Homo sapiens: one gene and its partners. The protein of the gene in region 1 purifies or fractionates together with the protein of each later gene. This does not show direct contact. Each region holds a gene or a part of one and is shown in the gene's direction. Other genes may lie near its edges.

Region 1 (4,604 bases):
TCCAAGGTGCATTTATCACTTCGAACAGTTACTTACCTTGGTATGCTGTCTCAGTGTTTGCCTTAATTTTTACTTTCGAAGATTTGCTGTCTGGCAAATCCTTTTGACTGATCAGTAGGGACCCTCGTTTTATAATATTGCCTCCTTAAATTATTCAGTAACATAATTGCAAATAGTTACTTCACTTAGCTACGATTTTAGAACATGTGGAGTGATTATTTATAAGAAGGCCTGCATCTCTTCACCAATTTTAGAAATTTGTGGTTTGGCTTCTAGTTTTATTTTTGTGGGCCAATAACATTCTTCCCCCTACACCAAAGTATTTAATGTTCCTGATGGAGAAGTTGCTGTGAATTTCTGTAGGTGATTGACACTTAGTTTTCTGGGTAGCTGATACTTGGTTGAAGTTAATCATCCATCTCCATTGCCCTCTGTCCTCCAGAATGCCATAGCAAATGCTTCAACTCTGGCTGAAGTGGAGAGGCTGAAGGGGTTGCTGCAGTCTGGTCAGATCCCTGGCAGAGAACGCAGATCAGGTGAACAAATGGTGTTCTTTGTATGTTCAAATTAATGTTACACTCAGAGTGTAACTCACAACCATTTAGATGCCATGACTCTGGAATGCCAGAGTAGTGCCTCCTTACATCAAATCTAATATATGAAATCTCTTTAAATGCTCTTTGAAGATAAAGTATTTGATGGGTTGGGTGCAGTGGCTCACGCCTGTAATCCCAGCACTTTGGGAGCCTGAGGCGGGCGGATCACCTGAGGTCAGGAGTTCGAGACCAGCCTGACCAACATGGAGAAACCCCATCTCTACTAAAAATACAAAATTAGCCGGGGGTGGTGGTGCGCGCCTGTAATCCCAGCTACTCGGGAGGCTGAGGCAGGAGAATCGCTTGAACCCGGGAGGTGGAGGTTGTGGTGAGCCGAGATCGCACTTTTGTACTCCAGCCTGGGCAACGAGCAAAACTGCAGCTCAAAAAAAAAAAAAAGGTATTTCATGAAGAAAGTTAAGTTACAGCACTGTGGGGGGTTTTATGTAAAAGTTGAAGCTAGAATTACTTCAGCCATGGAGTGCACCGAACACTAGCGATAGCCATGTGGACTTTTACCTATATATATTTGCGTGTGTGCATGATACCTCAGTAGTTAGGAACACAGGCTCTAGAGCCAAGCAGTCCGAGGCCCAAATCTCAGCTTCACCAGCTCTGCCTTTGGACAAGTTTCTTCAAGTCTTTCCTCATCTTTAAATCTGAGATAACAATAGTAGCAAACCTCAAAAGGTTGCCGAGAGGCTGAGAGACTGAACACAGCACAAGGCTCAACATTAGCGAGTTTTTGATAAGTGGTAACTGTTCTGACATCTGAATGCCTGCTTTATGCTAGGCTGCATGTGGGGCACTAGGGATATAAGATAAAAAGTACTGAAATACGTCTTACAAGTTTTGATATGAATGTAACTGGGGACAGCCACTCAGACTGCCGTCTTGGGGAAGTTTCCTAGGGAAATAATGTTTGAGCTGGGAGCTAAAAATTAAAAAGACATTTTTTTCCTTTTTGAGTCGGAGTTTTGCTCTTTTTGCCCAGGCTGGAGTGCAGTGGCGCGATCTCGGCTCACGCCAACCTCCGCCTCCCGGGTTCAAGCGATTCTCCTGCCTCAGCCTCCCAAGTAGCTGGGATTACAGGCACCTGCTACCGTGCCCGGCTAATTAATTTTTAGTAGAGACAGCGTTTCACCATGTTGGCCAGGATGGTCTCAATCTCTTGACCCCGTGATCCACCTGCCTCGTCTTCCCAAAGTGCTGGGATTACAGGCGTGAGCCCCGTGCCCAGCCAAAAAGAAATTTTTTAAGACCAGTAATTCTCTACTGTATGGTTTGTGGGCCTCTGGGAGTCTGTAAGGTGAAGACTGATTTTGTTGTTGTTGTTGTTTTGAGACGGAGTCTCGCTCTGTCGCCCAGGCTATAGGGCAGTGGTGCAATCTCACCTCACTGCAAGCTCCGCCTCCTGGGTTCATGCCATTCTTCTGCCCCAGCCTCCCGAGTAGCTGGGACTACAGGCGCCCGCCACCAAGCATGGCTAACTTTTTGTATTTTTTTTTTTTTTAGTAGAGACAGGGTTTCTACTAAAAACACATGTTAGCCAGGATGGTCTCGATCTCCTGACCTCATGATCCACCCGCCTTGGCCTCCCAAAGTGCTGGGATTACAGGCGTGAGCCACCGCGCCTGGCCGAAGACTGTTTTCATCTAATAACACCAAGGTGTTACTTGCTTTAGTATGAACATTTGCACTGATGGAGCAATAGTGGGTAGAACTGCGGGCACCTCAGTAGGAGTCAAGGCAGCAGCCTAAATAATAGCTGTTACATTCTTCCCTGCTCTGCACTCCCAGTAGCGTGCATACCAGTTTCACTTAAGAGTGTCCTGGATGCAGCAGTAAAGATAATTAAATATCACTCCTCGGGCACACGTCTCTTTGATATTCTGGGTGACAGAAAGGGGGTGCACATGTCTGCATTCTTGAGTTAGGTGGTTATCTCCATGCACTGGTGCAGTTGTTTCAGTTGAGAGGCAGCTACCTGTCTTCTCAAACATGATGAAGTGAGCCTGTCACTTCAGGGAAAACAATTGAAAATTCAAGGTTTAAAGCAAAAATTAAAATTTAGAAAACTTGTATCCACTGCCGTAACCTGCCAGCTTCCCAGTACTTTAAGACTTTTCTGGGGAACTCAATAGTAATGTTATGTGCATGTGAATTAATGGGTGTGACATTTTTGATGTGTAATTACATGGCTCAACGTTTGGAAGATCTGCAAAAGTCGGTGAACCACAGTTTTCCAAATGATACGAAATCATGTACGGGTAAAAGATTTGTTCAAAGTACAAGATAAACCAAGTAAGAGTATGAAAAGTTCATTGATAAGGTTTCAGACTTTTACACTGCCATCTAACCTTGAGGAAGCTACCATTTGTCAAGTTTTAGCATAGTATCTAAAAAGAGCATCCACCATTATCTGCACAGGCTGTTAAAATCTTCCTCCCTTTTCTAACTGTGTGCCTGTGTGGCCAGATTTTCTTCATGCCCGTCAATCAAAATGCCGTATTGCACAGGATGGAATGATGAAACCAATACAATAATTCAGCTGACTGATGTTAAGTCAGACATTAAGTCAACAATAACAATTGTTTCCCAAACAATTGAAGGAGTTACAACTTTTTTTTCCCCCTGGAATACATTGAGCAAAATACCTGCCATAAATTGTTGAACAAATGTAACATTTTTTGGTAGTTGTTGGCATATTTCCCTAATTTAGAGACAATAAAGTCATTGAACTGTTGCCAGTATATGGCATGTAGTAGGTGCCCAGATGTTTTTGAGTATTTCCGGTTTCTTTGCCTACGGTAGTGCCATGAAAAGCACATGAGTATAGGCTTTACCTTCACCAAAAATGAATTATTATCAACTACAATGGGAGGCAACAATTTTGAAATCTTTGTGACCCTTTTCCTTTGAAATTGAGCATCCCTTCCAGTACCTGCCAAAGACAGACTAGACCGTCCCTGGACGATAAGCTCCTCAAAGGCAGGTGCTGCTTTTGATCTTTTTGTACCTACTTCAGTGTGTAACAAACAGTGGCCACAGAACAAACACTTGCATGCTAAGGGAATGGATTCTCTAAAATTGATACTACTTTTGCTTTGGTGGTTTTCTTTAGGGCCCACTGATGATGGTGAAGAAGAGATGGAAGAAGACACAGTCACAAACGGGTCCTGAGCAGTGAGGCAGATGTATAATAATAGGCCCTCTTGGAACAAGTCTTGCTTTTCGAACATGGTATAATAGCCTTGTTTGTGTTAGCAAAGTGGAATCTATCAGCATTGTTGAAATGCTTAAGACTGCTGCTGATAATTTTGTAATATAAGTTTTGAAATCTAAATGTCAATTTTCTACAAATTATAAAAATAAACTCCACTCACTATGCTACCAAGTTGTGTGTCATCATGGTGCATTTGCAGTGAGGTCTAAGGACACGTTGAAATTGGAAATGCAGGAGGGCAGCGTTTTCTCGGTAGGCTTCCTGGGCTGGATTAGCGTCTGGCTCCTGCAGTGTCATGACACATGCCAGGAAGGCCGCCTTTTCCACTCCCACATAGCCCTTCTGTTAGTGCAGACTTACCTGTCGCTCCGGCTTCTGATAGGACAACTGAAATGATTCCATTTTTGAAATTGATTGGTGTGTCCCACCAAACCTGGCTATGTTTTTTGTTTTTTTCTCCCCCGCCCCCAGGCTGGTCTCCAACTCTGGCTTCAAGTGATCCTCCCGCCTTGGCCTCCCAAGGGAGTACAGGCCTGAGCCACCATACCCAGCCTTTAGTTTTATATATGTACATAGTTAACATAAAGGTCATATGGAGAGTCTACAAGAACATTTGTTGAAAGGGGCGTAAGTTACTCATATTTGAAGAACACTACTGTTTCATTGCCATCTCTCTGATCCCCCTTAGCCACGACAGTCTTAATCCCATCTTGTTGCATATACTTTTGTGAAAAGCTTGGCACTTTATCAGTTAGCTCTTGCTGCAATAATGCTGTATAACA
Region 2 (3,865 bases), on another chromosome or scaffold:
CATTACCAGAGTAGTGTCTACCAGCTGTTTTCACATTTTTCTGTTTCCTTCTGTCCTTGGAATCCTTTTTTTAGATCCTTGTAATACTAGTAAAGATATTCCACTCTGTGTTGTAAGCATTTTTCCATTTTGCTCCATGGTCTTCATAATGCCCTGTGGTCCTTTATTAAGGGGATGCACCATGTAGAGGTGAAAGGCTTTCCTTGACTTGGCCACCATTTCTGTATTTTCCTTAGAGGAGGAGGTTTCCAACATTTCTTTTTTAGAGACAGAGTCTCGTTCTGACACGCAGGCAGGAGTGCAGTGGCATGATAACAGCTCACTGCAGCCTTGAACTCCTGGGCTCAAGTTATCCTCCCACCTCAGCTTCCTGAGTAGCTAGGACTACAGGTGCCTGCCACCACACCCAGCTAATTTTTTTTTTATTTTTTTTATTTTTTTTAGTTTTTTTGTATAGATGGGGTCTTTCTGTGTTGCTCAGGTTGGTCTTGAACTCCTGGCCTCAAGTGATCCTCATGTCTCAGCCACCACAAGGTGGCTGGGATTACAGGCAGTGACCACCGCACCTGGCCTGTTCCCAACATTTCATTTTGGCAAATTAAGCTGTGGGGAAATCTCTGAGCATTTTCTTTCCCTTTTAGATCGTTTCCTTAGAAGAAAATTCTGTGTGGCTCATTATTGGCTAAAAGAGCATCCTTAAAAGATTTCTTAAACATTTTGCCAAGTAGCTTTCCAATAATTTTGTGCCATCCTCTGCTGCTAAAGAAATAAGAGGATATCCAAGGTCCCTTTAAATATATATGACCAGGTTAGGTGGCTCACGCCTGTAATCCCAGCACTTTGGGAGGCCAGGGTGGGAGGATCGCTTGAACCCAGGACTTGGACACCAGTGTAGGCAATATAGTGAGACCCCTGTCTCTACAAAAAATAAAAAAATTAGCTGGGCATGGTGGCGCATATCTGTATTTCTAGCCACTTGGGAGGATCACTTGAGCCTGAGAGGTCAAGGGTATGATCATGCCAGCGTACTCCAGCCTGGGGCGATAGAGCAAGACCCTATCTCAAAAAAAAAAAAAAAAAGAAAGAAAAAAATCCAAAACCATGCACATCCCTAGATTGATTTTTAGCTATGGTGATTGCTTTTGTAGGCATTTCTAAAATCTGTGAGCCAGTGTGGTGGCTTACACCTGTAATCCCAGCACTTTGGGAAACTGAGGTGGGCAGATCACCTGAGGTCAGGAGTTCAAGACCAGCCTGGCCAGCATAGTGAAACCTCGTCTCTACTAAAAATACAAAAAATTAGCCAGGTGTGGTGGCGGGCGCCTGTAGTCCCAGCTACTTGGGAGGCTGAGGCAGAAGAATCGTTTGAACCCGGGAGGCAGAGGTTGCAGTGAGCCAAGATTGTGCCACTGCACTCCCACCTGGGTGACGGAGCGAGACTCCGCCTCAAAAGTAAATAAATAAATAAAATCTGTGAACTTATCGTTTACATTGCAACAAAGAGACCAATATCCGAGTTAAAGCAGGCATGCAGAACTCTGTGCTTCACTTCTCCTGGGTTCACGTATATTTATGGAGCATGCAGTAGAAATGCACAACTGAGCGGTTTTCCAAAAGTTTTTTCGCTAGGTTAGGCCTTTTCATTTCCTGCATGTTCCTGTCAAGAAACTGAAGTGGAAATTACCCTTAAAAAGTCCCACCAGCTGGGTTGAGTCAGAATCATGTCTTTTTCTGTTGAAATCTATTCCTTCTGGTGGAGAGTATGATTCTAAAATTAACGTTAAGCTAATTTAAAGCAACTGAATAGCTTGGAATGAACATGCCAAGCCTTCTCATTGTTTTATTTTTCAGATTGTTCCCAGATGGGGTAAAGTTATGGCTTAGGCAGTGGTACAGGAGACAACCAGGGCCCCTTTTTCCAGGAGCCCTTTGTCTGCCCGAGGCATTTGCTGGGTATAGTGGCCTAGTTTAGCAGGATTTAAGTGTGCATTCACCTTCATTCTTATGTGTGGTTTGCATTATTTAAGGAGTAGGGAGAATTTTTTTTCCAAAGCATGAGGTTCCAGTTAGACTAATATACTGTCAAATTGAGACCTCATGGTGTTAGTTACACGGCAGGGTATGACCACGACTTGCTGAGGAGCCAGCCTGGGTGTCGATCACTAGTGTGGCACATAATTGCTGTGGTGGTTGATCTGGGGCACAGCACTGCCTGTACCCTGTCTCCTGCCATCTGTCTTAAAAAAAATTTAAAAAATTTTTGTTTTCAGAGGTGAAATTTCATTTTGTTGCCCAGGCTTGGGTATGATCTTCTGGGCTCAAGTGATCCTCTCGCCTCAGCCTCCTGAGTAGCTGGGACTACAAGTGTGCGCCACTGTGCCGGGCTCCCACCCCCTCTTAAACTCACAGGCCAGGGATATGAAAGTCTGAAGAGTGGAGCTGGCTAGCTGGCACCAGATGCCGGGGCCATGCCTTGGTGTGTTTGGGGCAGTTCTAAGTACAAGGTTCTCGCCAGAGGAGCAATGGAAGGCCCCACAGACAATGTTTATGGAACAACCCCTCCTAGCCCCTTGCATTTGCAGGCCACTGTACGATTTGAAAAGACTTTGAGGGCTGGGTTCAGTGGCTCACGCCTATAATCCTATCACTTTGGGAGGCCAAGGCGCTTAAGCGCAGGAGTTTGAGACCAGCCTGAGCAACATGGTGAAACCCCGTCTCTACAAAATGTAAAAAAAAAATTAGCCGAGCATGGTGGTATATGCCTGTAGTCCCAGCTACTCAGGAGGCTGAGGTGGGAGGATCCCTTGAGCCCAGGAGGTGGAGGTTGCAGTGAGCTGAGATTGTACCACTGCACTCCAGCCTGGGTGACAGAGTGAGACCCTGTCTATAAAACAAAAACACTTTGGCATCTCCTCAATAATGTTTCAAGGTAGAAAGGGAAACTGGTGTTAGCTGCATTTTACACATGGGGAAATGGAAGCAAAGAGTAGTTTGGTAACTTGCTGTGGGTCAGAGTGAGTCAGCAGTGAACCTGAGACTTGAACGTGTTCATATCTTGTGTCTTTAAGGTCCGTGTACTTTCTGACTGACACAGGTGTTGTATATAAGTGTGGCACTTTGAATATTACTGTTGGGACATTTTAAAAATCAGGGTTCCCTAAACATCATTATAGGGACATTTTTTCATTATCCTGAGGTTTTGAAGGCTTGCTGGGGACATGGGGCATATCTGGGGAACCATCCCAGGTACAGACAGTGGTTGGAGACCTCCCTGCTGATCTTACCACACCCCTGTCATCTGAAGGTGCCTTATACAGCTGTACGAGTCTGGGTTTTTGCTGAGGATGTTTCCTGTGTGGGCCTCACCAGTATAATGGGGGTGGTTTTAGGGAGTACTTGGACAAGGCGTTAAACCAACTATTTGTTTTTTGTTTGTTTGTTTGTTTCTTAAAGACAGGGTCTTGCTCTGTTTTCCAGGCTGGAATACGGTGACACGATTCTAGCCCACTGCAGCCTCAGACTCCTGGGCACAAGTGATCCTCCCACCTCAGCCTCCTGAGTAGCTGGGACTAGAGGCACACACCACCATGCCCAGTTAATTTATTTTTATATTTTTTTGTAGAGTTAGGGTCTTTTCTTGTTGCCCAGGCTCAAATCAACTAAATTTTCATGTCTTTCAGTCTTTCTTGTTACTCAGAGGACAAAGTCTAGGTTTGGTGCTCATGTACCTTTTACACCTCTCCAGCACTTGCTACCCCTTTGAACTAAGAGAATTAGTCTCAGCAAACTTCCAGCTAAACTTTGACAGTATTACTTTGTTTTCATTATGTTCACTTTTGACTACCTTTTGTTGGTAAAGGCATAC
Region 3 (4,453 bases), on another chromosome or scaffold:
TCTTTGCCTCCTCCCCAGATGGGCCTCTCAGCTCCCACAATCTCTGGCCTCCAGGATGAGCTATCCCATCTTCAGGAGTTATTACGGAAATGGACACCAAGAATATCTCCTGAGGATCACTCCAAGAAAAGAGATCCACATACCATTCTCAATCCCACTGAAATTGCTGGCATTCTCAAAGGCAGGGCAGAGGGGGATCTGGGGTAGAGGAGGGTTCTGTCTAATCTTTTTTTTTTTTTTTTGTATCTGCACTTGCAGCCTCAGCTTTCACACTTCAGCCCTTAAGTTCACTAAGAAGGTCTGAGTTTCTGCTGCAGATAGTGGTGTTAACTGCTCCAACTCTTGTCTTGCTTAGTTTCTACAAATATTTTTGCTTCTTGTCATTTGAAGGATTAAGAAACAAAAACAATCCAGAAATTGATCGGTTTTTTTAGGCCAATCCCATCCCTTCTGGATAACCAGATGTTAAATCATGAGATCAGAGATGCTGTTCATCAGTCCCAACAAGATGGCCTAGAAATCGCATTCTCACCTCGCCTTGCTGCTGCTTTAATTCCAAGTTCTATTTCTTCCCTTATAGTTTTCTATGGGAATGAGGCGGATACAGGAAACACCCTATCTCCTCTGTATTTTTGTAGTGGAATTTCTATTTAAGGGGCTCATTAAAGCATAGTATTTATACACATTGCTGGCATTGTTTCTTGTGTTTGAATAAAGGATTCTCCTAGGTAGGAAAGTGGTGGGTAAAAGGGGTGTATGACCCAAGAGAGGAAGGCATCCACCATATTATTGCTAAGGAAATAGGGGAACTGGGTTTGGTGAGGCTCTGCAAAATTCAAGTGCAATTTGGGGAAAGGGTTCTCTTGTGTGTGTCTCCCATTTAGAGGCAGATGGGGCCAGAGTGTTCTAGAGATCCAGACTCTAGAGCTCCGATCCCATCCACCCCTCAGCTGTGGTCACACACCAACGCGGAGCAGCCCTCACCCTCCCCATGCAATTAGGACGAGGTGAGCGCAGACGTCACTCTAAGCTCAGACATTTCGCAGTCTCCTCCCCTGAGGGAAAACCAAATACCTCCAGCCCAAATCAGGGTTGTGAGGCCAAATCTGCAAGAAGGCTGCAGGCGAGAGGGAAGGCTCCCTCTGCGCCTGAAAGCCCCCAAGTCCTCGGGTTGGGGGGAACTCTTCAGCACATCCTTCTCTGGACAACAGAAGAAGAATCACTGTCCACAAAATATATTAAAACTGAAATTTTTGTTCTTTTAGCTTTCGAATTTACACTTTTGAGAGCAGTGTGATTCTTTCAAGTCTAGCAGTGCATTAAGAGGGCCTGAGCGTTTCCGTTCCGCCCTCCTCGCTAAGACAACTAGCAGCGGCACCTCAGGACGCGAGCCGAGGACTCTACCGCCCGACCCAGGTTAAGTTTCGGAGGCTCCTAAGATGGCTGCAGCCGCTTCCAGGCACCTCCTCTTCCGCGGCCCCGCCCACCGCTACGTCCGTCTTCGCCCCGGAAGTGGAAGTCGTGCTGAGGTCAGAAGGCGGAACCGCTGCTGGGAGACGGCGGGATCTCTTTCGCCATGGCTGCCGGGCCGATCTCCGAGCGGAATCAGGGTAACTGGAGGGGGAAAGTCTGGAATGGGCTCAGCGTGGCTAGGAGGCCCCGACTACAGCCAGCAGTGTCTCTGCAGGGGTGGGAGACTGGACTCCTCCCTTCCCCAGAGGGCGCGAGACCGGCCCTCTGCCTGTTGGGGGCGGGGTGGCCGGGTGCTGGCTGAGGCCTCTGGGTGTGATACTTAAGTCCGGTCCCCTGCTGACTTCTCACTCAAAAAATCAAAAAAACCCACTCACAATACTAAATTAGACTTCAGAGGATTCCCGAAGTCCTGGGAAGAGAGAAGTTTAAGGGTTTAAACTTTTTTTTTTGCTCCTGTCCCCTACCGCGGTCCCCAGTTCCCCTGGTTGGGTTCCATCTTCATGTTTCCATCACTTCCTTCCTTCCCGTTACACTCTCACGCTTGCTCTTTTTGCTCCCTCCCTTCAAGATGCCACTGTGTACGTGGGGGGCCTGGATGAGAAGGTTAGTGAACCGCTGCTGTGGGAACTGTTTCTCCAGGCTGGACCAGTAGTCAACACCCACATGCCAAAGGATAGAGTCACTGGCCAGCACCAAGGTGAGTACATGACAAGGGGCGAATTGCTCCCGGAGGGTCCCAGCAGTATTCACAACTGTTTTGGAATAACATGAGCAACCTAAAGATTTTTTTCTTTTAAGCCTCTCTTCAGTTTATTTCTGGAACCATTCTTAAGTAAAGTGATGTTGTTTCTTTCTTGTTCTTTGTGATTAGAGGGTAGATGAATTTTACCCCATTTTCAGTCTCTTTACTTACGTTGTTAACCTCCTCTTCTCCACTTTTCCAGGCTATGGCTTTGTGGAATTCTTGAGTGAGGAAGATGCTGACTATGCCATTAAGATCATGAACATGATCAAACTCTATGGGAAGCCAATACGGGTGAACAAAGCATCAGCTCACAACAAAAACCTGGATGTAGGGGCCAACATTTTCATTGGGAACCTGGACCCTGAGATTGATGAGAAGTTGCTTTATGATACTTTCAGCGCCTTTGGGGTCATCTTACAAACCCCCAAAATTATGCGGGACCCTGACACAGGCAACTCCAAAGGTTATGCCTTTATTAATTTTGCTTCATTTGATGCTTCGGATGCAGCAATTGAAGCCATGAATGGGCAGTACCTCTGTAACCGTCCTATCACCGTATCTTATGCCTTCAAGAAGGACTCCAAGGGTGAGCGCCATGGCTCAGCAGCCGAACGACTTCTGGCAGCTCAGAACCCGCTCTCCCAGGCTGATCGCCCTCATCAGCTGTTTGCAGATGCACCTCCTCCACCCTCTGCTCCCAATCCTGTGGTATCATCATTGGGGTCTGGGCTTCCTCCACCAGGTAAAGCTTTTGGTTAAAATATGTTTGTCTTAAGGTTGGGGGAGAGGGTCAGGAGGAAGAAGAAAACAAGTCTGAAAGGGGGACAGGGGACATTGAGTCAGTGAGTTGATGGGAAGAGGACTGAGGGGTGATGGTAGTGGTGAAGAAGAAAGTTGTTGGGTTTCTTTAGGAGGGTGAAGTTGGTTGACTTTTCTAACATTGCTTTTGATTTTAGAGCACTGGGAGGAGGGGGAAAGAGCTCACCCTGCCTGGAGAGGCCAGATCAGGACAGGCTCTTTAAAGACATTTTCTCCTCACTACCATTAACTCTTCCTTTTTCCATTTCCTCTATAGGCATGCCTCCTCCTGGCTCCTTCCCACCCCCAGTGCCACCTCCTGGAGCCCTCCCACCTGGGATACCCCCAGCCATGCCCCCACCACCTATGCCTCCTGGGGCTGCAGGACATGGCCCCCCATCGGCAGGAACCCCAGGGGCAGGACATCCTGGTCATGGACACTCACATCCTCACCCATTCCCACCGGGTGGGATGCCCCATCCAGGTAGGTGTGCTTTGTTGGGAAAGGGAGGGAAGAGCTTGGTAGAGCATCTCTGTTACCACTCACCCTGCTGCCCTTTGTTCCTCAACAGTAACAGTTTCAGAGTTTTCCTTTCCTTCAGACATTCTATTATAAAAACATACAAAATGCTCTCTAACATCTACCACCCTGAATCCATTTCTTAAGTTTTTCTGACAAGTAGACTCTACTTGCCAGTTTTTATTTCTTTAATCTTTAGTTCCATTCTCTTCTCTGACTCCACCTCAAAGTGGTGACCTAATTGCCAAATCTCGGGGACGCTTCTGCTCCTTATCTAGTTTGACCTCTGATATACTTGAAACTAGTTGTGTCCTCCTGTTTGAAATTCTTGTCTCTTTTTGCTTTTGCTTTTCTAGATCCTCCACCCCTCTCTCTGACTTCTTAATCTCAGCTACCGTGATAGACTCATGTCTACTTGTGCCTAGATTTTTGTGCTTGTTTCTCTTTTCTGCATATATCTATAGTTTTAATTGGGTATATACTGATGCCTCCTAGGTCTGTATCTCTAGTCCGTAGCTGTTGATATTCCAGATCCTTGATGCTGCTGCTTAATAGATAGCGTCATTTTTCTATCCCTCTCCTTCAAATCCATTCTTCTTCTAGTGTTCTTTTTTTTCAGGTGCTTAATTCATGAATCTGAGAGCTATGTTTGACTGCTCCCTATCACCCCACTCTTAATACCAAGTCTTATTTGTATCAGTGGCATCTCTCCCCATGGCCAGTGCCCTAGTTCAGTCTCTCATTGCCTCATTATTTTACACTTAATTTGTTGTAGTAATCTCTTGCCACTTTGACTCCAGTTTTCCCTAACTTTGATCTACTTTCACAGTGTAGGTCTTTTAAGACACAGATGTGCACACACTTGCTCAGAATTCCTCTGTTGCTCCCTTTGACCTACAGAGTAAAACCCAAACTCA
Region 4 (3,865 bases), on another chromosome or scaffold:
TTTTTGTATTTTTTAGTAGAGACGGGGTTTCACCATGTTAGCCAGGATGATCTCGATCTCCTGACCTCGTGATCCGCCCGCCTTGGCCTCCCAAACTGCTGGAATTATAGGCGTGAGCCACCACGCCTGGCCTATTTCTTTTTCATGGTTTATAATGAGTCTAAGATCTTGTATGTCTGGATTTCAGGTTTGAGAATTAGAAACGTCCAAATGACAGTTTATGTTAGTATTGTTGTGTTCCTTCATAAAGGTTGAGGATATAATTCAGGAAAGCTGAAATTGTTATGCAGATTATTGATAGGAATTGATGCAGATAGCATCTAGCAAATTTTCAACATCGAGTTGTTTCACCCTTTCACCTTAATAAATGTGATTTTAAAGTGTTACAGGTAAAAATGGTTTTATTCCTATTTATAGATTTTTGATGAAATTGAGTCATGAAACTGTAACCATTGAATTGAAGAACGGAACACAGGTCCATGGAACAATCACAGGTACGGAGGTTGGACTGCTTTTATAACATTTTTTTTCTTCTCTTTTACCTAGCCAGAGTTTATTTTTTTATTGCTTAATGAACATTATTGTAGTACAAATCCTTATTTTTTTTGTCTGAATTATGTAATTTTTTTTTTTTTTTTTTAAACAGTTTTGCTCTGTCACCTGGGCCGGAGTGCAGTGGCACGATCTCAGCTCACTGCAACATCCGCCGCCTGGGGTCAAGCAATTCTCCTGTCTCAGCCTCCCAAGTAGCTGGGACTACAGGTGCCTGCCACCATGCCCGGGTAAATTTTTTTTTTAGACGGATTCTCACTCTGTTACCCAGGCTGGAGTGCAGTGGCACAATCTCAGGTCACTACAACCTCTGCCTCCCGGGTCCGGGTTGAAGCAATTCTCCTGCCTCAGCCTCCCAAGTAGCTGGGGTTATGGGTGCGTGCCACCACACCCAGCTAATTTTTTATATTTTTGGTAGAGACGGGGTTTCATCATGTTGGCCAGGTTGGTCTCGAACTCCTGACCTCATGATCCATCTTAACAAAAGCAGTAACAATTCTTATATACAGAGAGAAGCAGAAACAAAGGTGAGGATAGTTTGGTGGAATGGGGATTATGAGGAAGTTACAAAGACAGTGGGAGAAACATGAAAGAAATACCTGTCACATCAGTAGTGAGCCTAAAGCCCAGTCAGGGTTCTTCCATGGCTTGCTGCATTCACTTCTGTAAGCAAAACATTAGTGTGCTAGGAAAAATCTCTAGGAAGGAAACACTGCTGACATTCCCCCATTTACCAGTTGCACATGTGCTAAATTGTGTCATAGAAAACTTGCACTTTGTAGAAGAACAGTAATCTTTTGTAGTCCAGTATTTACTGTGGCTCAGTAGATTAATTAGTTGCCTTAACTTGTATCATACTAATAACTGCACAATTATTTTCCTCTTTAGGTGTGGATGTCAGCATGAATACACATCTTAAAGCTGTGAAAATGACCCTGAAGAACAGAGAACCTGTACAGCTGGAAACGCTGAGTATTCGAGGAAATAACATTCGGTATTTTATTCTACCAGACAGTTTACCTCTGGATACACTACTTGTGGATGTTGAACCTAAGGTGAAATCTAAGAAAAGGGAAGCTGGTAAGTTTGAAGGATTATAAACATTTTTGTGAATGCTAATCCTAATCCACACTATTCATAATATAGATATTATTTGCAAACAACACAAGTGTCTTTGTTGTTTAATATTTCCTATAGTATGTATAGTAATTCTTGGTGTTGCTATTAAAAACATTGAGCAACCGGACGCAGTGGCTCACGCCTATAATCCCAGCACTTTGGGAGGCCAAGGCGGGTGGATCACGAGGTCAGGAGTTCAAGACCAGCCTGGCCAACATGGTGAAGCCTCATCTCTACTAAAAATATAAAACTTAGCTGGGCATGGTGGCGGGTGCCTGTAATCCCAGCTACTCGGGAGGCTGAGGCAGGAGAATCGCTTGAACCCAGTAGGCGGAGGTTGCAGTGAGCCGAGATCTCACCACTGCACTCCAGCCTGGGTGACAGAGCCACTGTCTCAAAAAAAAAAAAAACCAAACAACAAATATCGATGTGGTCGGGCAGGGTGGCTCACACCTGTAATCCCAGCACTTTGGGAGGCCAAGGTGGGCAGATCACCTGAGGCCAGGAGTTCCAGACCAGCCTGGTCAACATGGCGAAACCCCCTCTCTACTAAAAATGCAAAAAAAATCAGGCGTGGTGGTGCGTGCCTTTAGTCCCAGTTACTCGGGAGGTTGAGGCAGACGAATCACTTGAACCTGGGAGGTGGAGGTTGCTGTGAGCCAAGATCACGCCACTGCACTCCAGCCTGGGCTACAGAGTGAGACTTTGTCTCAAAAAAAAAAAATATATATATATATATATGATTGTAATCCATAGCTTGAAAAACAATGATTTAATCTCTCTCTCGGTCCTTTATCTCATGCTGCTTTCCACTTTAAAAAAACCCCCTGTGGGTACCAAAATCTACAGATTCTTAAGTCCCTTTTCATAAAATGGTAGTAGTGTTTCAGTGCACATCCTTTTGTACCCTTTAAATCATCTCTAGATTACTTGTAATACCTAGTATAATGTAAATGCTCTGTAGATAGTTATACTGTATTGTTTAGGCGTTAATGACAAGAAAAAGTCTGTATGTGTTTAGTACAGATACAACCATCATAGGCCTAAACTACATTTTTGATCCTCAGTTGGTTAAATCCATGGATGTGCAACCCATGGATATTGAAGGCTGGCTGTATTTTCAAATCTGAGGATGTTTTGCTTTAATGTCGTTAGGGTTATTCTACATTTTTTTTTTTACTACCTACCTACCTGTCGGGGAATTGATGATTGAAAGCCCCCCGCCTCATATCATCTTACTCCACGCTTCTGAATCTTAGATTTTTCAGAAGTTATTCTTCCTTTACTAAATGTTACAGTTCCCAGTCTACTTTCTATTTAAAATTTTGTTGAAAAAAATTTTTTTTTTTTTTTTTGAGATGGAGTTTCGCTCTTGTTAGCCAAGCTGGAGTGCAGTGGCAGGATCTCAGCTCACTGCAACCTCTGCCTCCTGGGTTCAAGCGATTCTTCTGTTTCAGCCTCCCAAGTAGCTGGGATTATAGGTGTGTGCCACCACACCCAGCTAATTTTGTATTTTTAGTAGAGGTGGGGTTTCATCCTGTTGGTCAGGCTGGTCTCATACCCCTGACCTCAAGTGATCCACCCGCCTCGGCCTTCCAAAGTGCTGGGATTACAGGCAGGAACCACCGCGCCCAGCCGAAATCTTTTTTTGAGATGGACTCTCACTCTGTCGCCCAGGCTGGAGTGCAGTGGCGCGATCTCGGCTCACTGCAAGCTCCGCTTCCCGGGTTCACACCATTGTCCTGCCTCTGCCTCTCCAGTAGCTGGGACCACAGGCGCCTGCAACCACGCCCGGCTAATTTTTTGTATTTTTAGTAGAGACGGGGTTTCACCGTGTTAGCCAAGCGGTCTCGATCTCCTGACCTCATGATCCGCCTGCCTGGGCCTCCCTAAGTGCTGGGATTACAGGCGTGAGCCACGGTGCCTGGCCCAAAATCTTTTATCTACTGTGTTTTCTCTGCTTTTCTTTGTTCCTCTGGGTAGTTATCATTTTTGTTCCTTTTCTATCATAAATACTATTTCAGAAGAAATTGAAGGTAAGTGTGGTCAATTTGGCCCATTTTAACGTGTTCTAGACTTACAGTTTTTGTGTGTACACATTTAAAATAGTACGGTTTAAAATAACTGAAATTGGCCAGGTGCGGTGGCTCATGCCTGTAATCCCAGTACTTTGGGAGGCAGAGGCGGGCAGATC
Region 5 (3,865 bases), on another chromosome or scaffold:
TCAATGATATAGGATCGTATATGCAAAAGCCATTAGTTTATATATTAATACCTCTTGCCAGTGACATATTTATAACATTTTACAGGTGGTATAGTAAATTTATTTTTTAGTATTATAAAGTATTTGGGAGCAAAACTTATATTAATCACAGTGAACATATTTAAAATAAAAAGTTTTAAAAATTGTTTTAGTCTTCCTCTAAAATACCTCATTTATTGAATTTACAGGAAAATGGCTAGCATGCCAATCAATGGACAACCAAATCTTAATTTTTGGAGCACAGAACAGATTTAGATTAAATAAGAAAAAAATTTTTAAGGGCCATATGGTAGCAGGCTATGCTTGTCAGGTGGACTTTTCACCAGACATGAGGTAAGTTTAAATCTTCTAATCCATTCTCGTATTCAAATATGATTATATAAACTGTTGTTGTACAAATAACACTTGACACATCACTCTCACATAATATGTTTTTATGAGAACTCGATGATCTGTCAAAATTGTCAAAATGCTGGATATAAAGGCAAGAACAAATTAGGAAAATTACATTTTGCTTTTTTTAGGTTCTTGCTTCAGTATATTCCCTTCTATTACTTAGGCTTATGCCCTTTAGCCACCTAATAAATCCCTGTCTATATAACCAATGCCTTATTTTCTCTGCTTTTCTAAGCAAGACTAGAAGTGCTATAATCACTGTATTGCTATGATTGAATGAACACCAGAAGAATTAATTGTGTATTACAGTGTTGCAGTTACAGCTTCACTACAGCTTGTCTGTGCTGAAACCTCAAATCCAGCTTTTGAATATTTCTAGGTCACACTGGATTTGTGAAGCCTACAGCATGGTTCTTAGTTAAAATGTATAGGCAGAAGTAATTTAGAAATCCCAGTAACTTTGTTTGTTTAGCCTAGTAATTGGGCCTACCTCTGATTCAGTCTTAGATGTATTCAAAAGATATTAAAGCCAAAAAGTAATTATGAAAGTGTTAGAGCCTACTGTGATAGAATAGATCTAAAGGTGTTCCCTAGCTATATGTGGAATTGGTTCTCCAGTCTCTGTTTCTGACTATCTAGAGACTGATTGTGTAACCTCATTCACTGTGGCTCCTGGGACTCCCAGTCTTCCCAGTTAAAAATAATTTTCTACTCTTAGATTGGTTGGGAGGTTTTTTTAATAGAATTTCAAATTATAGACTGCTTCATGTTCTACCATCTTATTCTGAGTATTGTATATTTGCATTGGATTTTTTTTTTAATGTTAACGTGAAAAGATAACGTCCCTATTCCTCATTCGCCTTACCAATTTAAGGTATTTTAATAATTTGAATTTATCTTTCTTCCCATTATAGTTATGTGATTTCAGGAGATGGAAATGGAAAATTAAACATTTGGGACTGGAAGACCACAAAACTCTACAGTCGATTTAAAGCTCATGATAAAGTGTGTATAGGTGCAGTGTGGCATCCTCATGAAACTTCTAAGGTCATAACATGTGGTTGGGATGGTCTCATTAAATTGTGGGATTAATGAGATTAATCCTTAAACTAGCTGGGATCATTTTTGATCCATTGTCATATTTATATTTAATTATTAAATGTATCTGATGATAACTTGATTTACAGATAATGTTGATGACATTGACCCTTTGTTTAAAAAAAGAAACTGTAAATTTGACATAATTTCATTTGCAACTTCATTTTGTTTTTTATAAATGTTATTTATACAGAAAGTGGCTATTGACTTTCTATTTGACAAGTAGTTATAATTGGCAAGCAGTTTGAGTTTATACTCATGACATACTGAAAGCATCTCTTTGGGGTCAAGAAAGAATCCCTAGTGGATTTGGGATTCTAGAGGAGGTGTTATAATTAATTATTCAGAAAAATGCATGTATTTACCTCTTCAACCAAAAGGGCAGTAAAGAATAGGGATAATATATTTTAATGTAAATTTGGAAGAAGGATAAAATCACCCACAGTTACTCTCCCTATTATTTTCACTGGGTCAAGTTTTAATCTTTTGGCTTCATGAGTTCCACTCCCTTTGATGATATATGTTGTATATTTTTAGTTGTAAAGCAGTAATCTTTAACTGTAGCATTCCTCTAATTATAAACAGTGAAAAATCAAAATCAGTCCAGAGTTCTTTTGTTGACTTAATTCCTGATCAGTATAGACAGGACTATATATATTTAATCAGAGAATTACATTATATCTGAAGATGGAGCTCAGGAGAATGCACCAAGACTTTGAATTGTATTTACATTCACTGTCAGTAAAGACCTGGCTACGCTTTGAGAAATCAGGATCTCCTAGGTCATTGCTTCGCAGCTGTGATTACTGAAATCCTCCTCATAGGAGATAAAGTACGAGGGGTAGAGTCCAAGATGTCAACTTGTAATTTCTTTGAAGTCATATGTTTTATCTTTAAAATTATTCTTATTTTACCTGTGAATATATACAACAGAACTTTTTAAGATTAAAAAATTTTTAAACCTCTATGTCTGAAAAAAAAAATGACACTCCTGGAAGATGGCTAGGGTTCCCCAGTTTGAGAAGCAGTGGCCATGGTGAAAAATAGTTTTTGAAAACATCAGATTATAAAATCAAGATAGTCCGGACGCGGTGGCACATGCCTGTAATCCCAGCACTTTGGGAGGCTGAGGCAGGTGAATCACCTGAGGTCAGGAGTTCAAGACCAGCCTGGCCAACATAGTGAAACCCCGTCTCTACTAAAAACACAAAAATTAGCCAGGCTTGGTGGCTGGCGCCTGTAATTCCAGCTACTCAGAAGGCTGAGGCAGGGAGAATTGCTTGAACCCAGGAGTGGAGGTTGCAGTGAGCTGAGATCATGCCACTGCACTCCAGCCTGGGCGACAGAGCGAGACTCCACCTCAAAAAATAAAATCAAGATAACCTCTTGAATGTAATAGCTCATAGCACTTTAATTTGGCAAGCCATTTTTCCTGTTTTATTATAAATCTATATTAGATGTTTGAATATGGTTTGAAATATTTCACTACCGTGCTGAAAAAGGTTGGTTGATAGCAGCTTGGAGTGCTAACTGGAAGATCAAAATCATGTCTCTTGCTGATAACCTAAGAGCATTAAGCTCTGAGTCCAGTGAGGTCATAGCAGTGTATGCTCCTTGCCCTTACGGAGTGTCTGTTTTTAGAAATTTAGATTTTAAAAGGCGTGGGACATACGACCAGGCCCTATAGCCACATAAATATAAATTTCATAGAAAAAGAATAAAAGCGGAGATATATTTTTTGACACAGAGGCACCCAAAGAAATACAAACATTGCCTAGCTGCTGCCATTTCTGTAACTGCCCAGAAGGGTGACAGATTTCTGAAGGGGAAAGGATTCAGATATGACCTTTTCTTTAGTCCCAACCACTAGTTTTAACAAATGTGAATTATTGAAATGTGAAGGGACAAAAAGAATCATACATTTAAACTGTCTTGTTCAGCATACCAATATTGTATGTTACAAATCATCATTTCTAAATCTGGATTGATTCTGTTGTGTTTTTGACTGTTTCTAAAGTAAGTGTGTATAAAAGTCTCCTTTTTAAAAAGATCATATTTTTAAATAAAGCATTTTTTGTAGAAAGTGCTATCAAAATGTTCATCTTGTTCATCTTTAGTCTCCTTTTGAGTCTTAAGTGTATTGAGACACTAGATTAAGCCATTTGCAGTTTTAAATGGGTCATATGGAGAGAAATAATGCTTTAGAGGTGGATGTGGTTTATTCAGGTATATCAGTGGGTTTATAATTATATAATAAAATACATGGCAGTACCCTCAGAGCACATTAACACATTCCATATTCATTTAGTGGTGGCACTAAGTCATGACTACA
Region 6 (3,865 bases), on another chromosome or scaffold:
GGTTTTCACCGTGTTGGCCAGGCTGATCTCTTAACTCCTGACCTCAAGTGATCCGCCCACCTATGCCTCCCAAAGTGCTGGGATTACAGGCGTGAGCCACCGTGCCTGACCATCCCTTCATTCTTATGTGATTCATTTGAGCAGTCGGCCATCAATACCCCTGGACAGTCTGCTTTCCCTGCTTCTCTACGGCCTTGCGGGGACCTTTCATTTAAAAATCAAAATGGAGAGGTTTTAGTTAATTTGAGGGTTCACGTATGAAGGAATGGAAGAAACTAAAAAGTGGTGACAGTTTTCTGGGGTGCTGACTTCAGGCAGGGAGTTACTGTACTTAAGACCAGGGCAGTTCTTCTGAGGGAACAGAAGTTGGTGTGCACTCCGTCCCCCACTCCACACAGTGTGGTACCAACATCAGCGAAGGTGTTGGGGCGGCAGGGTCTTAGAATCCCTGTAATGGGGGAGCTGAGAAGTAAGAGTACCTTCAAGAGAAATGCTTGCCGAATCAGACCTAAGGAGGGTATGTGTTAAATATTTTCCTCCTCTCCTGAGCCACAGAACACAAGCAAATTAGGCTTTTCAATAACACGGTTTCCATGGGAAAATGCTTTATGGGCCCCCTGGGAACTGACAGACTTATTTGTCCATAAACTGGGAACTACTGTGCTAAGCATTTACTTGCAATTTGTGGGTTTCTGTTTAAATTAAGTTCTCTTTCTGTCTGTGAGATTGATTTCTTATTTGAAGAAGTAAGCTATGTTGGTGGGTTTCAGAATGTTGATTTTTTTTTTAAAAAGTGGCAGTTGGGGTTCACTGGCGAGGGCTCTGGAGTTGGCCTGGCTGGGTTGGAAGGGGCTTCCGCTGTGGCCTTGGGCAGATTGATTCCCTAAACCCCAGCATCCATGTCTGTGCAGTGCTGGGCTTTCATGGGACCTGCTGCCGATGCTGCATTGCATGTCATGCTTTGCGCCTGCTGACTCGGTTTTTGTTTCCACGTGTTCCTCTGTTCTGCACGGAAGCTGTGTGTTGCTCGTTCACATGCAGATTGTTGATTGTCTCTTTGTAATCACTATCATTAAAGATGACAGATTTCCACTTGGTGTGATATGAGGAAATCAGAGTATTTAAGATGTAACCAGTCTACTCCCCCCTTGATAATTGTAATTGACAAAATCACATCTAAGAGATCATTTCTGTCATTTTTTTCCCTAGGAGTACGTTTAAATTTTTTCTTTATAAAAGGGTAGCTAATTGTGCTACATCAACCTGCTAATTGGTGTTTTTGTAAAGCTTCTACTTTTTGGCACTGACATAAATAGAATTTTTTAAAAATTGGATATATGTAATTAATAATGTTCCAATTCTTACCTCATTATGTGCCCTAGCATTGAAGGATTTCACTCATGGATCACTTGACTGCATGATCTTATAGATGGAAAAATGAATTTTAGAGGCTTATTTTAAAAATAATCCATGGTCTAGCTTCATGTATCAGGAATAGCCCTACATTAATGGTACCAGGAGCCTGGGCCTCTGTTGCTGAAAGGTCCTGGACCTTTTACCTCTAAAATTTCATGATACTTATTTTAACATGAAAAGCCTTTATTGAATTGTGCATTCTTTAATCCCCACCCCTTTTGCCTTTCAGCATTAAACTGAAGAAAAGATGTCCCTGTACGATGACCTAGGAGTGGAGACCAGTGACTCAAAAACAGAAGGCTGGTCCAAAAACTTCAAACTTCTGCAGTCTCAGCTTCAGGTGAAGAAGGCAGCTCTCACTCAGGCAAAGGTAAAGACAAGCCCAGAGCATGAGAGCAGAGGCCTCCAGAGTGGGTTCCTCATTAGGATGACAAGGAATTTGGTTTCAGCTTGCTCTTCTGCCTTTGTATTGGGTAAATGGTGTTAAGCATTTGTAGGGGGAGAGGAATGAGGAGTTTAAGGCCACTTTGCTACTCCTGGCTCCTGGGAATAGGAACATTTCGTGGGGTAGGAATGAAGAAAAACAGTACTCTGCGGGGGCTGGGCGCAGTGGCTCACGCCTGTAATCCCAGCATTTTGGGAGGCCAAGGCAGGCAGATCACGAGGTCAGGAGATCCAGACCATCCTGGCTAACAAGGTGAAACACCGCGGGCGCAGTGGTGGGCACCTGTACTGCCAGCTACTCGGGAGGCTGAGGCAGGAGAATGGCGTGAACCCGGGAGGCAGAGCTTGCAGTGAGCCGAGATCGCGCCACTGCGCTCCAGCCTGAGCGACAGAGCAAGACTCCGATTCAAAAACAAACAAACAAACAAACAAAAAAACAGTACTCTGAACCAGCAGTGACACTGCTTTTCAAACTTAAGTAGTGGAGGTCTAAGATTGAGTGAGAACTTGTTTAAGGTGCTAATTTTGTAGCCTTACTCCTGATATTCTGGTAAACTGTAGTTCAGGCTGGAGCCCCAGGAGTGGGAATTTTTAAGTAGCATTCCTACTGGTTTGGTGGAGGTAGTTTGGAAGCAGCACTTTGGGAAGAAGCTCCACAGAATACCTAAGCTGCTGCGTGCAACTTATTGAGGGCTCAGGTTGATTGTGAAGGCGTCAGGCATAGGTAGTCTGGATGCTGATTGCTTTTGTTTCTGTTGTGTACATGTTGGGTATTGGCAATGTCCTTGAAATAACATGTAAAACATTAAAAACCTAGTTGTCGACTGGATATTTGCCATTAAAATGTAGGCATGAGAATGGTATTATGGTTTGTTTACTACTTTAGAGATCTTTATGTTCTAGAGTATGCATTCGTAATGGAGGCTATATCCCCCCAAACAGAGCGAATATTGGTCTTTTTGGGGGTGAAAAAACCTTGCTCGTGTTGTGCACAGTGTATCTGTGGTGTGAAAATTTCATGTGCGGGAGAAAATTTAGTCAAAGGCTCCTTGCTGGGGAGGCAGTAATTAAAGTTGAGAAAAAGTACTTTAGAGATGTGTACTGAAATATTTACCGATAAGATGATGTCATTTTTGGGATTTACTTCTAAACAATTCAGTCCCGGGCAGGGGAGGGAGGGAAGAACAGAACTACCCATGAGTTGATAATTGTTGAAACTGGATGTGGATAGTAGAGACTTAAGAATTAATATTAATCTCTAATTTCATGTTTGAAAATTTCCGTAATACACAGGTTTTTTGTTTTTTTTTTTTTTTTTTTTTTTTTTTTTTGAGACGTAGTCTCACTTTGTAGCCCAGGCTGGAGCGCAGTGGCATGATCTCAGCTCACTGCAAGCTCCGCCTCCCAGGTTCACGCCATTCTCCTGTCTCAGCCTCCTGAGTAACTGGGACTACAGGCGCCCACCACTGCGCCTGCGGTGTTTCACCTTGTAAGCCAGGATGGTCTCGATTTCCTGACCTCGTGATCCGCCTGCCTTGGTCTCCCAAAGTGCTGGGATTACAGGCGTGAGCCACCGTGTCCGGCCAATACACAGGTTTTTTTTCTTAAAAGTTCTACTCATTTTTCTTTTCCCTTTACCACATCAATAGATACTTACATGGAAGTGCTTACATTTGATTGTTCAGTATTGTAGAGAGGTTTTTTTGTGTTTTTAAAATTCATCATTACCAAATTTAGATTTTTTGGATGCCAGTATTTTGTGTTTTTTTTAAAACAAGGTTTCATTCCAAATGTAAGGAGGGTTAGCAAAACCTCGTTTTTCTCTTTAATTTTTTTTAAAAGTACATTTATAAAATCTTTGTAGATTTCATGTAACTTTTGCTTTGCAGGGAAGATGCAGGTGTGAGCCACCGTGCCCGGCCTCATATAGATTTTTAAAACTTGAGGTAGCTTGTGAAGTTATTTCTACTAACTTTATAAAACTTTTGAGATTGCTATGTACAGT
Region 7 (3,865 bases), on another chromosome or scaffold:
TTAGAACCTCTGATTATGAATGTCAGTGTGATAGAAATTCTGGTTATGTGCTCTCAAGATGTATATTTCCCTCAGAAGATGTATCATTTTCTTTTTGCTTATTATCTATCACTGCTTTGTGGTCACTAGAGAACTGTACCATTTGTCTATTCCTATATCAAACTATTAAATATTTACAAGAAAACTAATATTTTATAAATTCAGGAATTACGGAAAATAATGGGAAAGTAAAAGATAAGAGAGATGAAAGTGGTTTTCATATTTGGGCTCCTCCTCCTCCTCCTCCCCTCCGATAATACCACATAACCCTGAAGAGACAACTTTCCTTCAGGGAAAACTCCAGTAGCACTTCCTTTGCTGATTTCTTTCTCTTCACCTGTTTTCTTACCTTTAATTTGAGAATGTTAATATATATCTGATATATAGATTAAATATATTTTTGCGGGTATAAGACAAAATTTGGTTGATTTGAAGGCAATGAGGGAGAAGGAACCATCTGGAATAGCTCTTTCTATCTCTAGCTTGTTGCCAAATAACAAGCTTCCGGTCGGGCGCAGTGGCTCACACCTGTAATCCCAGCACTTTGGGAGGCCAAGGCGGGCAGATCACCTGAGGCCAGGAGTTCGAGACCAGCCTGACCAACATGGAGCAACCCTGTCTCTACTAAAAATACAAAATTAGCCAGGTGTGGTGGCGCATGCCTGTAATCCCAGCTACTCCGGAGGCTGAGGCGGGAGAATTGCTTGAACCTGGGAGGCAGAGGTTGTGGTGAGCCAAGATCGCACCATTGCACTCCAGCCTGGGCAACAACAGCAAAACTCCATCTCAAAAAAAATAAAAAATAAAAATAAAAAGAACAAGCTTCCTTGGCAGCACCTATTCTAATTACTCAGGATCCTTTACATTAATTAATTAATTTTTATTTTTTTTATTTTTGGGATGGAATCTCGCTCCGTTTCCCAGGCTGGAGTGCAGTGGTGCGATCTTGGCTCACTGCAGCCTTCGCCTCCTGGGTTCAAGCGATTCTCCTGCCTCAGCCTCCCAAGTAGCCAGGATTACAGGCACGTGCCACCACATCCAGCTAATTTTTTGTATTTTTAGTACAGACAGGGTTTCACCATGTTTGCTAGGCTGGTCTTGAACTCCTGACTTCAGGTGATCCACCTGCCTCGGCCTCCTAAAGTGCTGGGATTACAGGTGTGAGCCACCGCGCCTGCCCCACACTCTTTATTAGAGTTTATAAGAGGAACACCCAACTAGATCATATCTTGTCCTATGTATTCCAAAAAACCCACATGTAGGTCTTTTTGTTGCTTTTTTGTCAGCTTTCCTCTGGTCCTTATGAATGCTGGTGTGTGAAGGCCAGTCATATTGCAATTATTAAGGGATTTTTGTTGCTTTTGTTCTCTCTGATAGTGTTATTTATGGGAGGCAGAGGAAGATGAAAGATTATCAAGGAGTCTTACCTGGGGCAAAAAAGTAGTGATTGGCATCATCTAATAGAGCAGTTGAGTGTCTCTGTTGAGGCATTATAAATATTGTTTGGTCTGTCAGTACATTGCACAATGAGGGTGACAGGCATCATCTTACATAGAATGTAAATCTCATCCATGCATTTCAGCATTACGATACTTGGTTGCTATTAGATTTTTAGATTCTTACTTGGCTATCAGTGGTTTCATATATCCTGGTGAAACAGAACAACTTATTTGAAAATCAAGTTGAAATGGCTAGCTAATCTGGAAATGCTATGGATGCTGCTTGAGGGGAGTGAATGTTCTGTGGAAGAAGGCATTTTGTTCTAGTTTTCAAAATAAAAGCTATGATTTTCTGGCAAGCTTAATGACCACATAATGCTACAGCTACAGTTCTGAAGTACTTATTATAGTTGAAAAACTCTAGCAAATCCAAGCATGTGTCAGATTGATGGCTTGGGTACGGGAAGCACTTATCTTAGGAATGCTTTAACTCTTTCTCATTTACAAGAAAATGTCTCTCAGCTTTATTCTCTTGGTTTTCAAAAACTTCAAACATCTCTTTAGCAAATAAGCATATTGTACTTAGGAACTCATATATCTTAGATCTAACGGAGTATTACTTAAAGAGGTCTTGTAAAAGTGAATATTTTCTTTTTTTTCCATCAAACCCCCTCTAAATGATTAATTTTAATTTGTGTTTTCTATTATTTCTTAATAGTACTCATTTGGCTGTTTTGAGCTAAAAGAAAGGTATTTCATAGTAGTAGAAAATACAAAGCTTTTCGGAGTCTCAAAAGATCTGGGTTCAGGTGCTGCATATAATACCTATGAGATCTCAGGAACACCGCTTAATTTTTCTAAGCCTGAATGTTTCCATTTAAAATGATGTTAAAGAGTTACAAGGATTAAATGAGATAATACATGTGTGAATCATGTTTAAAGTGTACTAAGCAAATACTACTGAATTTTTTTTAACTACTTAAAAATTATACTTGATCCTCATGTTTATTTGATAAACCTTTTTAAAATACTACATTTCATCAGCAAACTTTATTTAGCTTGTTCTACTTTAGCAGTCTCAGTTCTCTCTCCTAAATAATTATGTATAATCACTAGTAGAAATGTAGTAAACTCATTTCTGGATCCTTCCTATTGTATTCATTTGCTTCTCACATAACAATGAATAAATAATATGTTAATAAAATCTGATTCCAAGAAAAAATCTTTTATATTTCTGCCCCAAGTATAGCTTTACCTGTTCCTCACTAAAATATGTATTTATATGCTAAAATATATACACATATATTTTGCCTTGTCCTAGCCATTTTACTTAGTTTCGTCCTGCATATATGAAATCCACATTTTCTTGCTGTAGCATGTAAGTCCCTTTGTGATCTGGTGTTTTTTACTCATGTAACTTGTGCCTCAAGCTCTGCTGTCCTTATTAAGCTGTTAGCCCCACTGAATTCTCATTTCCTAAAATATACCAAGCTCATTCTTGCAGCAGGGCCTTTGCATTGGCTATTTGATCCATCTAGAAAATGCTTTGTGTGTGTGTGTGTGTGGTGTGTGTGTGTGTGTGTGTGTGTGTGTGTGTGTGTGTGTCTTCCCATGACTGCTTTCTAATCATTCAGGCTTTAGCTCACATGTTACTTCTTCACAAAGGCTGTCCCCAACCACCCTATCAAAAGTAGCCCCTTTTCCCAGTCTTTTTCTTTTATATTACCTTCATGGTACTTATCACAAGCCAAAGAATGTGTTTTTTATATCTTTGCCTACTAGAATGTAAACTCCACAAGAGGCAGGGAACTCTGCTGTATCTCTAGCATCTAGCATACTAAGGACTCAACAATTACTTGTTGAATGAATGAATATATCTTGAATGTCAAATGATGATTAACTATTTTATTTAACTACTTCTAATGTGTAGGATTTTGGAGATGGAGGTGCTTTTCCAGAGATCCATGTGGCCCAGTATCCACTGGATATGGGACGAAAGAAAAAAATGTCGAATGCGCTGGCCATTCAGGTGGATTCTGAAGGAAAAATTAAATATGATGCAATTGCTCGACAAGGACAGTCAAAAGACAAGGTAATCCTCTCATGTTTTCCCTGAATGATAAATATTTTAGGAAACATTTTAAATTTTGTGGACACGATAAATCTCTTGCTGTTTGAATTATGTTAAAAGTAGCAGTGGCTGGGCATGGTGGCTCGTACCTATATTCCCAGCTACTTGGGAGGCAGAGGTAGGAGGTTTGACTGAGCCCAAGAGTTTGAGGATACAGTGAGCCACTGCACTCTTGCTTGGGTGGCAATACCTTGTTTTAAAGGGGGAAAAAAGTACATTTTAAAACAGTTACTTTATATTACTAGCATTCTAAAAC

Evidence for each region.
Region 2: the proteins of SNRPA1 (region 1) and SF3A1 purify together in Homo sapiens (affinity purification with mass spectrometry; 8 studies listed by BioGRID and IntAct, with this or other methods). This does not show direct contact.
Region 3: the proteins of SNRPA1 (region 1) and SF3B4 purify together in Homo sapiens (affinity purification with mass spectrometry; 5 studies listed by BioGRID and IntAct, with this or other methods). This does not show direct contact.
Region 4: the proteins of SNRPA1 (region 1) and SNRPD1 purify together in Homo sapiens (affinity purification with mass spectrometry; 6 studies listed by BioGRID and IntAct, with this or other methods). This does not show direct contact.
Region 5: the proteins of SNRPA1 (region 1) and CDC40 purify together in Homo sapiens (affinity purification with mass spectrometry; 5 studies listed by BioGRID and IntAct, with this or other methods). This does not show direct contact.
Region 6: the proteins of SNRPA1 (region 1) and RBM17 purify together in Homo sapiens (affinity purification with mass spectrometry; 5 studies listed by BioGRID and IntAct, with this or other methods). This does not show direct contact.
Region 7: the proteins of SNRPA1 (region 1) and SNW1 purify together in Homo sapiens (affinity purification with mass spectrometry; 6 studies listed by BioGRID and IntAct, with this or other methods). This does not show direct contact.

What each region holds. Positions count from the first base shown.
Region 1 is NC_000015.10:101,280,899-101,285,502, reverse strand, and holds the end of SNRPA1 (U2 small nuclear ribonucleoprotein A'), read left to right. Parts: intron 1-442; coding exon 443-536; intron 537-3,720; coding exon 3,721-3,779; 3' UTR 3,780-3,993; downstream 3,994-4,604. UniProt on the Homo sapiens protein: Involved in pre-mRNA splicing as component of the spliceosome. Associated with sn-RNP U2, where it contributes to the binding of stem loop IV of U2 snRNA.
Region 2 is NC_000022.11:30,346,882-30,350,746, reverse strand, and holds part of SF3A1 (splicing factor 3A subunit 1), read left to right. Parts: intron 1-3,865. UniProt on the Homo sapiens protein: Component of the 17S U2 SnRNP complex of the spliceosome, a large ribonucleoprotein complex that removes introns from transcribed pre-mRNAs.
Region 3 is NC_000001.11:149,924,883-149,929,335, reverse strand, and holds the start of SF3B4 (splicing factor 3B subunit 4), read left to right. Parts: upstream 1-1,532; 5' UTR 1,533-1,576; coding exon 1,577-1,610; intron 1,611-2,041; coding exon 2,042-2,170; intron 2,171-2,417; coding exon 2,418-2,960; intron 2,961-3,293; coding exon 3,294-3,500; intron 3,501-4,453. Other genes in the region: MTMR11 (myotubularin-related protein 11), read left to right, coding at 19-207. UniProt on the Homo sapiens protein: Component of the 17S U2 SnRNP complex of the spliceosome, a large ribonucleoprotein complex that removes introns from transcribed pre-mRNAs.
Region 4 is NC_000018.10:21,622,308-21,626,172, forward strand, and holds part of SNRPD1 (small nuclear ribonucleoprotein Sm D1), read left to right. Parts: intron 1-417; coding exon 418-494; intron 495-1,440; coding exon 1,441-1,632; intron 1,633-3,865. UniProt on the Homo sapiens protein: Plays a role in pre-mRNA splicing as a core component of the spliceosomal U1, U2, U4 and U5 small nuclear ribonucleoproteins (snRNPs), the building blocks of the spliceosome.
Region 5 is NC_000006.12:110,228,605-110,232,469, forward strand, and holds the end of CDC40 (pre-mRNA-processing factor 17), read left to right. Parts: intron 1-227; coding exon 228-372; intron 373-1,349; coding exon 1,350-1,527; 3' UTR 1,528-3,628; downstream 3,629-3,865. UniProt on the Homo sapiens protein: Required for pre-mRNA splicing as component of the activated spliceosome. Plays an important role in embryonic brain development; this function does not require proline isomerization.
Region 6 is NC_000010.11:6,095,403-6,099,267, forward strand, and holds part of RBM17 (splicing factor 45), read left to right. Parts: intron 1-1,645; 5' UTR 1,646-1,663; coding exon 1,664-1,786; intron 1,787-3,865. UniProt on the Homo sapiens protein: Splice factor that binds to the single-stranded 3'AG at the exon/intron border and promotes its utilization in the second catalytic step. Involved in the regulation of alternative splicing and the utilization of cryptic splice sites.
Region 7 is NC_000014.9:77,751,024-77,754,888, reverse strand, and holds part of SNW1 (SNW domain-containing protein 1), read left to right. Parts: intron 1-3,408; coding exon 3,409-3,570; intron 3,571-3,865. UniProt on the Homo sapiens protein: Involved in pre-mRNA splicing as component of the spliceosome. As a component of the minor spliceosome, involved in the splicing of U12-type introns in pre-mRNAs.